Linked DNA regions of Homo sapiens. The protein of the gene in region 1 purifies or fractionates together with the protein of each later gene. This does not show direct contact. Each region holds a gene or a part of one and is shown in the gene's direction. Other genes may lie near its edges.

Region 1 (3,600 bases):
CTCCAGTGGGGATGCCTACATAGAATATTTCCTGAACTTTCACTCTGTCTCTATAGTTTACTCCAAAAGTGGATCCTATCCCTGAGTTTAATTTTCAAACCCACTGCTTTAGGGATTGCCTGCACTCTTAAAGTGGGTGGTCCAGCCAGCAGAGTTGAAAGAAGGACAAGGAGTTTGTGTTTGATGTGATGTAAAGGCTGGGAGAACTTACCCTGTTTAGGGATTGAGCTGGGATGTGGCTGTCGAGTGCTTTTCTGGCTTAACATTGTTTTTCTGTTCTTACTCAGGATTGGCAGGAGATTATAGCTCTGTATGAGAAGGACAACACCTACTTAGGTAAAGTGGCCCGGCCTGGGAGCCCTGGTATCCATGGGGAAGCCCACTCTCAGAGTTCTGAGATACCAGGCTTATAGGAGGCACAGTCTGTGAGTGGGAAGAGACTGGAGTGTAGATGTTGCCCATTTGTAGGTGGTAAAATCAATTGTTTTTGATGGAATTGATTTTCCCTGAGTGGAGTGCTGGGGGAAGGAGGAGGTCCAGGCCGGTAGTGGCCATTCGCCGTGCCTCAGCGAGCAGGTGTGTGTGGGTCCTCCACCACTCACCTCTTGGTTAGCGGGAGTGTGCTGCCCCCACCCCCACCCCCGCACCCCCATTCTACACAAGGCAGAAGAGGCACGGGTTTTTCTGGGAGCGAATATCAAGTGCCTGAGAGCAACTACAGGACTAACTGTGTTTGGGTTGGGTGTAGTATAAATAATAATAATGGCTAATATTTCCTGAGCATCTACTAAATGCAAGGAATTGTGCTTGGTGTGTCATGTGGATTCTCTCTTGCATCTTCATGATAAATGTTATTGTCGCTGTTTTACCGATGAGGGTTGGATTAGAGGGGTTAAACAACTTGTCTTAGGCTCCACAGCTGGGAACAAGTGGGGCTGGGAAGCTGACTTCGTGCTCTTCACCACCACAAAGGATGTGTGTGCATCCTGGGGCATGCCTGCCTCATGTGGGGGTGTCCTGGGCTGAATTTCCTGGGCACTTCTCAGTGGAACTCTCTAGCCTCCTGGTTCGGAATGTCAACTATGAGATCCCCTCACTGAAGAAGCAGATTGCCAAGTGCCAGCAGCTGCAGCAAGAATACAGCCGCAAGGAGGAGGAGTGCCAGGCAGGGGCTGCCGAGATGCGGGAGCAGTTCTACCACTCCTGCAAGCAGTATGGCATCACGGTGAGCGGCGGCAGCCTCTTCGCAGCCAGAGGACACCTGGGCCCCTGCTTGTCTTCCTCTGACCCCGTCTGACCCCTCAGCCTGGTTGCACCCCCTTTGGGCCAGTGTCTTACTTTTCTTCGGTCTTTGGATGTTTTCTTCAATCTGTTGGACTCCACCTCTTCTCCCCTCTCTAGGGCGAAAATGTCCGAGGAGAACTGCTGGCCCTGGTGAAGGACCTGCCGAGTCAGCTGGCTGAGATTGGGGCAGCGGCTCAGCAGTCCCTGGGGGAAGCCATTGACGTGTACCAGGCGTCTGTGGGGTTTGTGTGTGAGAGGTAGAGAGGCCTCAGCTTCTCCTGGTGGGGGTGCTTTGCCTGTGTTCCCCAGCTCATGACCCTTCTCCAGTTGTCTTGTTCCCATATAACATTTGAACTCTTTACACACCTGAACCTGTGGGGGCCTTGCCCATTTGACCATGTGGCCCAGGCCAAAGCCCAGTGTTGGCCTTACGCATGGTCGGCAGGAGAGTCAGTTGTGTGCTCTGTTGAAGCCCCACAGAGCAGGTGTTGCCAATGCTGCGGTTCGTGCAGAAGCGGGGAAACTCAACGGTGTACGAGTGGAGGACAGGGACAGAGCCCTCTGTGGTGGAACGACCCCACCTCGAGGAGCTTCCTGAGCAGGTGGCAGAAGATGCGGTAAGATGGGCCTTGTGATGAGCTGTAGGAGTGGAGTGGGAGCTGCTTGTCCCCTCCCCACCCCCAACAGCCCAACCCAAGACCCAGAGAGAAGAAGGGAGGATTTCTGTGAGAGTGACTGTAGGTAGAAGGGCCCAGGAGGCCCTACTCCTTTATTTTTCTGAGTATAGGTGAGTGAGTGCCACAGAGGCTTTGCAAGGTGGTTCGCTTTGAACTCGGAACCTCCATCATGTGAGCTCTCTGAAGATGGGCTTTCTTTGGGGTAGCTTAGAGGCCACTGCATTTGAACAGTGTGCTCTCTACAGAAGCAGCTGAGGCCTGTGGGAAGGCAGCCCCACCCTCCTTTTTAAATTAATTTATTTTTGAGACTGGGCCTTGCTCTGTTGCCCAGGCTGGAGTGCAGTGGCATGATCCTTGCTGACTGCAACCTCTGCCTCTCAGCCTCAAGCGATCCTCCCAAGTCAGCCTCCAAGATAGCTGGGATTACAGGTTTGCACCACCACTCCTAGCTAATTTTTTATTAACATCTTTGTAGGGACAGGATTTTGCCATATTGCCCAGGCTGGTCTCAAACTCCTGGGCTCAAGCAATCCACTATCCTCGGCCTCCCAAAGTACTGGGGTTACAGACATGAGCCACCATGCCCGGCCCTTTTTAAATCCATCTTCCATGAGCTAACACTCTCTTTCCCTTTCCAGATTGACTGGGGCGACTTTGGGGTAGAGGCAGTGTCTGAGGGGACTGACTCTGGCATCTCTGCCGAGGCTGCTGGAATCGACTGGGGCATCTTCCCGGAATCAGATTCAAAGGTGAGGAGGCCTTCTCAGTCTGTCTCTCTCTGATCACTACTCTAACCATAAGAAAAGTGTCATTTGTGTCTGTAACGGCATCACTTGAAGTTCATAGCTCTAAGACCAGGTATAGTCCAAGGGAGGCAGAGTTTCACACGTCACATGTCAGAGTTTTGTTTTGTTTTTTGAGACAGAGTCTCATTCTGTCGCCCAGGCTGGAGTGCAGTGGTGCAATCTCGGCTCACTGCAACTTCCGCCTCCCAGGTTCAAGTGATTCTCCTGCCTCAGCCTCCCAAGTAGCTGTGATTATAGGCGCCCACCACCACACCCCTCTAATTTTTTATTTTGTTTGTTTGTTTGTTGAGACAGAGTCTCACTCTGTCGCCCAGGCTGGAGTGCAGTGGCATCATCTTGGCTCACTGCAACCTCTGCCTCCCGGGTTCACGCCATTCTCCTGCCTCAGCCTCCTGAGTAGCTGGGACTACAGGCGCCCGCCACCACGCCCGGCTAATTGTTTTGTATTTTTAGTAGAGATGGGGTTTCACCATGTTAGCCAGATGGTCTCGATCTCCTGACCTCGTGATCCGCCCGCCTCAGCCTCCCAAAGTGCTGGGATTACAGGCGTGAGCCACCGCGCCCGGCTAATTTTTGTATTTTTAATAGAGACAGGGTTTCGCCGTGTTGGCCATGCTGGTAACTCCTGACCTCAGGTGATCCACCTGCCTCGGCCTCCTGAGGTGCTGGGATTACAAGCGTGAGCCACTGCGCCCAGCCCATGTGAGAGTTAAATTTTGATGTCCTTTTTCTTGGTGTTTGGTACAGGGTGTAGGGGTAAAGGCAGGTGGGAACACTACAGAGCAGGGATGATGGGCCATACTGCCATTTTTGGCACCTAAGTCAGGGCTGCA
Region 2 (3,823 bases), on another chromosome or scaffold:
AAGCTGCACTCCCCTGCTAGAACCTTAGCTCCTCTGCAAGGAGAGTAGGGTTAATGTATTAGGTTGGTGCAAAAGTAATTGCGGTTTTTGCTATTTGAAAGTCGTAGCAAAAACCGCAGTTACTTTTGCAGCAACCTAATACTTGGTGTTATTTTTCCAAGACAAATAGATATGTCTAATAAATTTTAGTGACTCGCTGATTTATTAATTAATTCAACCATTGAATAAACATTTAGTAAGCATCATCATAGACCAGGCATTATGACAAGCGCTGGTGAAGTAGCTGTGGACAAACCAGATGTGCCCCTGGCCTCGTGGAGCTTATGGTCTCTCTTATATTAGATTTATAATCTTCACTGCTTGTTCTGTCCATGTCCCTCCACTTCCCAAGCCTCCAAAAGAGTAGATTTGAGCATATTTCTGTCATTGAAGGCGTTTTTTTTTTGGCAGATTAAAAATTATATAGTACAAATCTTAGAAGAAAAATTCACAGGGTTTTACTGGCTCTAATGCCCTTTTAATGATTGTTAAGATCACCCTCTGAAATTTTCTTAGGAGATTTCTTTGAGCAAAGCTGAGGAGTGTATGGGTTGGTGTCCTTTTATGTAGTGTAGCAATATGTCACTTCCTCCTCTCCCCCTAATGCCCTTGTTTTCTTTATAAAACTGTCTTGCATTTAAGTTTCCTTTCTATCATACTGTGTAAGATAGAGACCTGGGATTACGAGAGAACTATGTAATGTTACTGTACAACTCAAGGAAAAGGCCAGAGAGGAAGCAACTTTTGTTAATAATGCTACTGCAAATAATTATTAAAATAATATTCATTATCATATACCAGGCAGTGTGTCTTGAATTTCTAGTGAGGTACATATTCTTTCCCCAAGAATAATGTCTTTATTGAGATCTGACAAAGTAATCTGCAAATTGCAAGACCTTAAGTATATTGTTGACTCATTGTTTCTTTAACATGTTTTTTTCTTCTTGATTAATACATTACAGGTCACTCTGGATCACGCTCAAATTCTTTTCATGGATTTAAAATTATTTTTATAATTTAAGACATGTACAGCTTCTTTTGAATTTCAGTGTTTGGCAGTGTTCTGTTATAAGCCTCCCAGAAACATAAGCATATCGTCATTTCAAAGTGGCCTCTTTCAGAGCCTTGGCTGCTGCAGAAATTTGTCTTATGAATCATTTGAACGAATACCACTTGTTGCTAATCCTTAGCAGTCTGAAAAAAATCCTATATTATAACCCAAGGATCAGGTAGAAATATGTGTATTTTAAACATACCAAAATGTTTTATGCTCTAATTCTTTTTAAAATATCACAAAGTTTAGGACCTAATACAGTGGATAGAAAACCTTTATTTCAAAAATAGCTCTTATTATGCTTAGCTATTGTGATTATATTTTATAGTGTTACAGAAGCCTCTTGAGATACCAGTTCTCTTTCGTGCTTCAATCATATGTTAGAGTGTGGCCCTTTCTAAATGTCCCAAGACAAAACTTTACCTTGGAAAAGTCTTCTATTCCTGTAGTTGAGATAGTTACAGAAAGGGGTTAGGCAGTCTCCTTTAGAAATCCCATTCCAGAGTAGTATATCAGGATTCCTTTTCTCAGACTTTTGTAACAAATATACACTTCTGGTAGATACTTGATTTTGAAAGTGGGCCTCCACCCTTCACTCACTCACTGAGTCAACCTTAGGACTCTCAAAAAAAACACTGTGTGTGTGTCTTTGTATTATGGGAATTTTCAAACATACACAAAAGTAGTGTGAAACTATGACCTTCCATGTCATTATATTCATCAGTTATCAACATTTTGCTACTTGTTTCATCTGGTTCCCCATTCTTTTTGTGGTGGTTGTTGTTATGGTTTTTGAAGTTTTTAATCCCACATACTACATTTTTTTACTCATAAACACTTTGGTGCATTTCTTACATTTTTAATGGTAGGTAAATTTTGAGACTAAAAATTGTTATATTTACTTTATTTTTGTTTTGTGTCTGAAATTAGCATGGTTCCCATTTTTGTTCCATGCTGAGAAGTTTAGTTTTCTTAGGTTCATTTTTGTTTCTTCTTGACTTCCTCCAACACCTTGTTTTATTCTTGTCATAGCCAGCAGTCATTATACTGGTTCCAATATAAAGACAGAGCATGACAGCTACATAATTTATATGTATGGATAAGCAATTTTAAAACTTTGCTTTCATCGACCATTTTTATTTCCTGGGAATCAGATCACTTGTGTAAAATTTTTATTGTAGGCATAAATTACCACTCTCCTGTTAGAGACTGTATGAATTTACTAATAGGAATGGAGTGACATTTTGAGTATAGATTAGTAAAAGGAAACTGGGTTATTGGGATAGACCTAGGCAAACATGATTTAGATTTTATCAGAGTTAAGAATTATTTTACTTGATAAGAGTCTCATGGATGTTTGTGCTCTAAAAGTAAGATAAATTGGCTAGCTTTGAAAAATAAATAAAAGAACGTGGGAAAATCTTGATTGTTTCTTCTTTACTTATATTGCCTCTATACTCAAACCAGCCATAGTAATTTCTCCAAGACTCTGATTCAGTGACTAATATCTTTTCAGCGGAGCTCCCACCTCCATATACAGCCATTGCCAGTCCAGACGCCAGTGGTATTCCAGTAATAAACTGCCGTGTGTGCCAATCACTAATCAATTTGGATGGCAAGCTTCACCAGCATGTGGTTAAGTGCACAGTTTGCAATGAAGCTACGGTAAGTGGAGATTTCCATTAGAAAAAATATAAATTGTTATTTGACATTTTATTCCTAAAGGAAGTACTTCAATAATGTTACTTAAAAGTATATGTGGGCTGGATACAAATATGGTAATCTTTTTTCCTGTCTTTTCTTCTGTCTCTCTTTCATCATAGGATACCTCACTGTGTTTAAAGCTAACCCCATTAAGAGAATTTCATGGTGAATTTAAATATAATGCCTTTTGGCTTTTTACTTTCAAAAACTAGACTGAGCATGGCAGTTACGTATAAATACTTTCAATATCTATCCACATCACAACTACATTCATTCTTGTTTTCATTAAAATGAAAATATTGTGTACTAAACTTCATTACAGATGTAAACTTTGCCCTATTTATGTGGAAAATTATTTGAAGTTATTTTATGTCTGTAGGATGTCACTATTGTTTTTCTGGGCTTTTGTGATTATGCATTTATTATTAGCATCTGTGCCAAAGTGTTTACAAATAGTTTGACATTTTATTCAATTTAGTTGATAGTAATTTAGGAATGTTTAAAATATTGAATAACACCTTTCCTTTTTTAAAAATTGAGCTTTGGGGAGCAACTAAATTTTCAGCAGTATTTTTATAGCTTCAAGTAATAAACTGGTAAAGCATACACTGGTTTAGATGAAATATATTTCTTTCATAGTTAGGCTTTATATATTACATTTTGATCTCTCAAAATCTGCAATTAAATATTAATTTTATCTTTGATGTTTTATTTTTTTCTCTTTAGAAAAGACTAAAAAAAGTCAGCCAGTGATTATTGTGTCTTGAAGGACCACAAAACATGAATACTTGACTTCATATGTTTTATAGAAAAATCATAAAATAAAACCTTAAGTTACAAAAGCAATATATTTCATTAGTTTTAATGGAATCCTTTCCTTTTTAAACACAAACAAACTTTGACAATCTGTACTTTGGTTAATTGCTGTGTTTGCATTTTCTTCCCTTATCCAGCCAATCAAAAACCCCCCAACAGGCAAGAAATATGTTAGATGCCCTTGTAATTGTCTTCTCATTTGTAAGGACA
Region 3 (3,823 bases), about 43 Mb from region 1:
CCAGGGCAGATTGGCACCTCCTGCTGACTCTGCCATCCCTCCACGTCAGACCACCAAGGCCAAGTACAAGACTCCCACATACCCCTACCTGCTTCCCAAGTCTACCAGCACGGCCAATCAGCTCCCCTTCACACTTCCAGGAGGGCAGTGCACCACCGTACAGGTGAGGCCCCCCACTTCAGCCAGCCCTCCCCTTTGTCTCCTTCAGCCTAACACCCCAACCCACTCTCCCTGGTGTGAGAGCTGCCCACACTCTCCTTTCCTGGGGTTAAGAAGCACATCACGGCCAGGCACGGTGGCTCACGCCTATAATCCCAGCACTTTGGAAGGCCAAGGCAGGCGGATCACAAGGTCCGGAGATCGAGACCATCCTGGCTAACATGGTGAAACCCCATCTCTACTAAAAATACAAAAAATTAGCCGGGCGTGGTGGTGCGTACCTGTAGTCCCAGCTACTAGGGAGGCTAAGGCAGGAGAATCGCTTGAACCCAGGAGGAGGATGTTGTAGTGAGCTGAGATCACGCCACTGCACTCCAGCCTGGGCAACAGAGTGAGACTCCATCTCAAAAATAAAATAAAAGGCCAGGCGCAGTGGCTTACGCCTGTAATCCCAGCACTTTGGGAGGCCGAGGCAGGCGGATCACGAGGTCCGGAGAGCAAGACCATCCTGGCTAACACCATGAAACCCTGTCTCTACTAAAAATACAAAAAATTAGCCGGGAGTGGTGGTGCGTACCTGTAGTCCCAGCTACTTAGGAGGCTGAGGCAGGAGAATGGCGTGAACCCAGGAGGAGGAGCTTGCAGTGAGCGGAGATCATGCCACTGCACTCCAGCCTAGGCAACAGAGCGAGACTCTGTCTTAAAAAAGAAAAGAAATGAAGCACATCGCATTCACCATTCCCTAGGTCTTGCGATCAGTGGACCGCTGGTCAGCAGGGACTCTGGAGAACTCCATCCTCAATGCCTACCTGCACACCATCAGGGAGAGCCAGCACTTCCTCTACATTGAGGTCTGACTGGGAGGAGGTGGGGGAGAGCATGGAAGGGGTGTCCCAGGAGAGAGACCTGGGGAATGAGTGGAGTCAGTCATTGAGGGCTGGTGGAGCAGAAGCAGACGCCTGGAGCCTGGGACCAAGGCTGGAGGCCGAGGACAGGGCCAGGGGCCAGGCTGCTGATGTCTGTCTCTGATTCTTGCCCCAGAATCAGTTCTTCATTAGCTGCTCAGATGGGCGGACGGTTCTGAACAAGGTGGGCGATGAGATTGTGGACAGAATCCTGAAGGCCCACAAGTAAGGTGGACTGTCAGGAAGGTGGGGACTGTGGGTGTGGTTTGAGCCCGGTTGAAGGGGGTGGGGTTTGAGGGACCAGTCGCACCTCTGACTCCACCCCCTCCCCAGACAGGGGTGGTGTTACCGAGTCTACGTGCTTTTGCCCTTACTCCCTGGCTTCGAGGGTGACATCTCCACGGGCGGTGGCAACTCCATCCAGGCCATTCTGCACTTTACTTACAGGTGACCCCCCAGGCGGACTCCAGCTCTCAGTGGCCCCATCCCACCCGTGTCCCCCTCCTGATTCTGTCCTGATCCCTTCCTGCTGGGCCTTAAAGAAGGGCCACCTCTCCTGACCTCCCCTCCCCTCTGCCAGCCTCCACTTCTCTCCCTCTTTCTTTTCTCTCAGGACCCTGTGTCGTGGGGAGTATTCAATCCTGCATCGCCTTAAAGCAGCCAGTGAGTGCTGGGGGCTGGGGGCTCAAGCCCTGGGCCCCTGGGAGAGGGAGATTGGGGCGCTGCAGGCCTGGGGGTGGGGGAAGGAGGCTGTCACTCCTGTGAGCCTCTGACGCTACGCAGACCATAGCTGGCCTTTCACTGCAGGGAGAAGGAGAGAGACCAGACTCTATGTAGGAAGAGTTTCTGGAGTGAGAGGAGGTGGGACAGGGCCCTGTGCACACAGAGCCACCTCTCACCTCACTTCCCCTCCTGTCACGCAGTGGGGACAGCATGGCGGGACTATATTTCCATCTGCGGGCTTCGTACACACGGAGAGCTGGGCGGGCACCCCGTCTCGGAGCTCATCTACATCCACAGCAAGGTGCTCATCGCAGATGACCGGACAGTCATCATTGGTCAGTGCCGGATCTAGTCCTCTGGCAGGGAGAGGGTGTGGGGACAGGCGAAGAGATGAGAGGCAGGATGACAGAGACTGCAGCTGAGGCTCGTGTAGGGGTGGAGGGTCCAAGAAGGAATGTTGCAGGCCAGTGCTTTGGTAGAGGGGATGGGGTACTGGGGAGAGTGCCCTGGGCCCAAGCACACAGTGTGCCCCGCATCCACCCCAGGTTCTGCAAACATCAATGACCGGAGCTTGCTGGGGAAGCGGGACAGTGAGCTGGCCGTGCTGATCGAGGACACAGAGACGGAACCATCCCTCATGAATGGGGCAGAGTATCAGGCGGGCAGGTTTGCCTTGAGTCTGCGGAAGCACTGCTTCGGGTAGAGCTGGGGCGGGATGCCACAGGGTGGGAGGGAGATGGGGGCGTCTGCCTTTTGAGCAGGACAAGAGGTAGCACCGCATAGGTACTCCCGGAGCCAGAGGTAGAGGCAGTACTAGATTCTCAATAGGCAAGGCTGGGCGCGGCAGCTCACGCCTCTAATCCCAGCACTTTGGGAGGCCAAGGCGGGTGGATTGCCTGAGGTCAGGATTTTGAGACCAGCCTGGCTAACATAGTGAAACCCGTCTCTACTAAAAATACAAAAAATCAGCTGGGTGTGGTGGCGGGCGCCTGTGATCCCAGCTACTAGGACTAATCAGTTTAGAGTATCAGTAAAGCAGGAACACCAAAAAACAAAAAGAGAAAAAAATCTTTTTTTTTTGAGACGGAGTTTTGCTCTTGTTGCCCAGGCTGGAGTGCAATGGCGAGATCTCAGCTCACTGCAACCTCTGCCCTGGGTTCAAGCGATTCTCCTGCCTCAGCCTCCCGAGTAGCTGGGATTACAGGCATGCGCCACCACGCCCAGCTAATTTTGTATTTTTAGTAGAGATGGGGTTTCGCCGTGTTGGTCAGGCTGGTCTCGAACTCCCGACCTCAGGTGATCCACCCACTTCAGCATTCCAAAGTGCTGGGATTACAGGCGTGAGCCACTGCACCTGGCCACGAAAAAGAAATCTTTTTTGTTGTTGTTGTTGTTGTTGTTGAGACACGGTTTCACTCTTGTCGCCCAGGCTGGAGTGCAATGGCACGATCCTGGCTCACTGCAACCTCCGCCTCCTGGGTTCAAGCAATTCTTCTGCCTCAGCCTCCGGAGTAGCTGGGATTACAGGCGCCCACCACCACGCCCAGCTAATTTTTGTATTTTTAGTAGAGACAGGGTTTCGCTGTGTTGGCCAGGCTGATCTTGAACTCCTGACCTCAGGCTTCGGCCTCCCAAAGTGCTGGGATTACAGGCATGAACCACCGCCCCTGGCCAAAAAAAAAAAAAAATCTTTTTTTTTTTTCTTTTTTTTTGAGAGGGAGTCTCACTGTCGCCCAGGCTGGAGTGCAGTGGCGCGATCTCGGCTCACTGCAGGCTCCGCCGCCCAGGGTTCATGCCATTCTCCTGCCTCAGCCTCCCGAGTAGCTGGGACTACAGGCACCCGCCACCTCGCCCGGCTAATTTTTTGTATTTTTAGTAGAGACGGGGTTTCACCGTGTTAGCCAGGATGGTCTAGATCTCTTGACCTCGTGATCTGCCCGCCTCCGCCTCCCAAAGTGCTGGGATTACAGGCATGAGCCACCACGCCCGGCCAAAAAAAAAAAACTTTTGTGTTTTGTTTGTTTGTTTGTTTTCTT

The links.
Region 2: the proteins of CDK5RAP3 (region 1) and PIP4P2 purify together in Homo sapiens (affinity purification with mass spectrometry; 4 studies listed by BioGRID and IntAct, with this or other methods). This does not show direct contact.
Region 3: the proteins of CDK5RAP3 (region 1) and PLD2 purify together in Homo sapiens (co-immunoprecipitation; 3 studies listed by BioGRID and IntAct, with this or other methods). This does not show direct contact.

What each region holds. Positions count from the first base shown.
Region 1 is NC_000017.11:47,974,113-47,977,712, forward strand, and holds part of CDK5RAP3 (CDK5 regulatory subunit-associated protein 3), read left to right. Parts: intron 1-287; coding exon 288-336; exon of another isoform or gene 337-973; coding exon of another isoform or gene 974-1,046; coding exon 1,047-1,225; intron 1,226-1,401; coding exon 1,402-1,541; exon of another isoform or gene 1,542-1,756; coding exon 1,757-1,901; intron 1,902-2,599; coding exon 2,600-2,710; intron 2,711-3,600. UniProt on the Homo sapiens protein: Substrate adapter of E3 ligase complexes mediating ufmylation, the covalent attachment of the ubiquitin-like modifier UFM1 to substrate proteins, and which is involved in various processes, such as ribosome recycling and reticulophagy (also called ER-phagy).
Region 2 is NC_000008.11:91,020,191-91,024,013, reverse strand, and holds part of PIP4P2 (type 2 phosphatidylinositol 4,5-bisphosphate 4-phosphatase), read left to right. Parts: intron 1-2,609; coding exon 2,610-2,758; intron 2,759-3,750; coding exon 3,751-3,823. UniProt on the Homo sapiens protein: Catalyzes the hydrolysis of phosphatidylinositol-4,5-bisphosphate (PtdIns-4,5-P2) to phosphatidylinositol-4-phosphate (PtdIns-4-P).
Region 3 is NC_000017.11:4,817,097-4,820,919, forward strand, and holds part of PLD2 (phospholipase D2), read left to right. Parts: coding exon of another isoform or gene 1-49; coding exon 50-163; intron 164-905; coding exon 906-1,010; intron 1,011-1,200; coding exon 1,201-1,289; intron 1,290-1,397; coding exon 1,398-1,511; intron 1,512-1,677; coding exon 1,678-1,727; intron 1,728-1,987; coding exon 1,988-2,122; intron 2,123-2,332; coding exon 2,333-2,486; intron 2,487-3,823.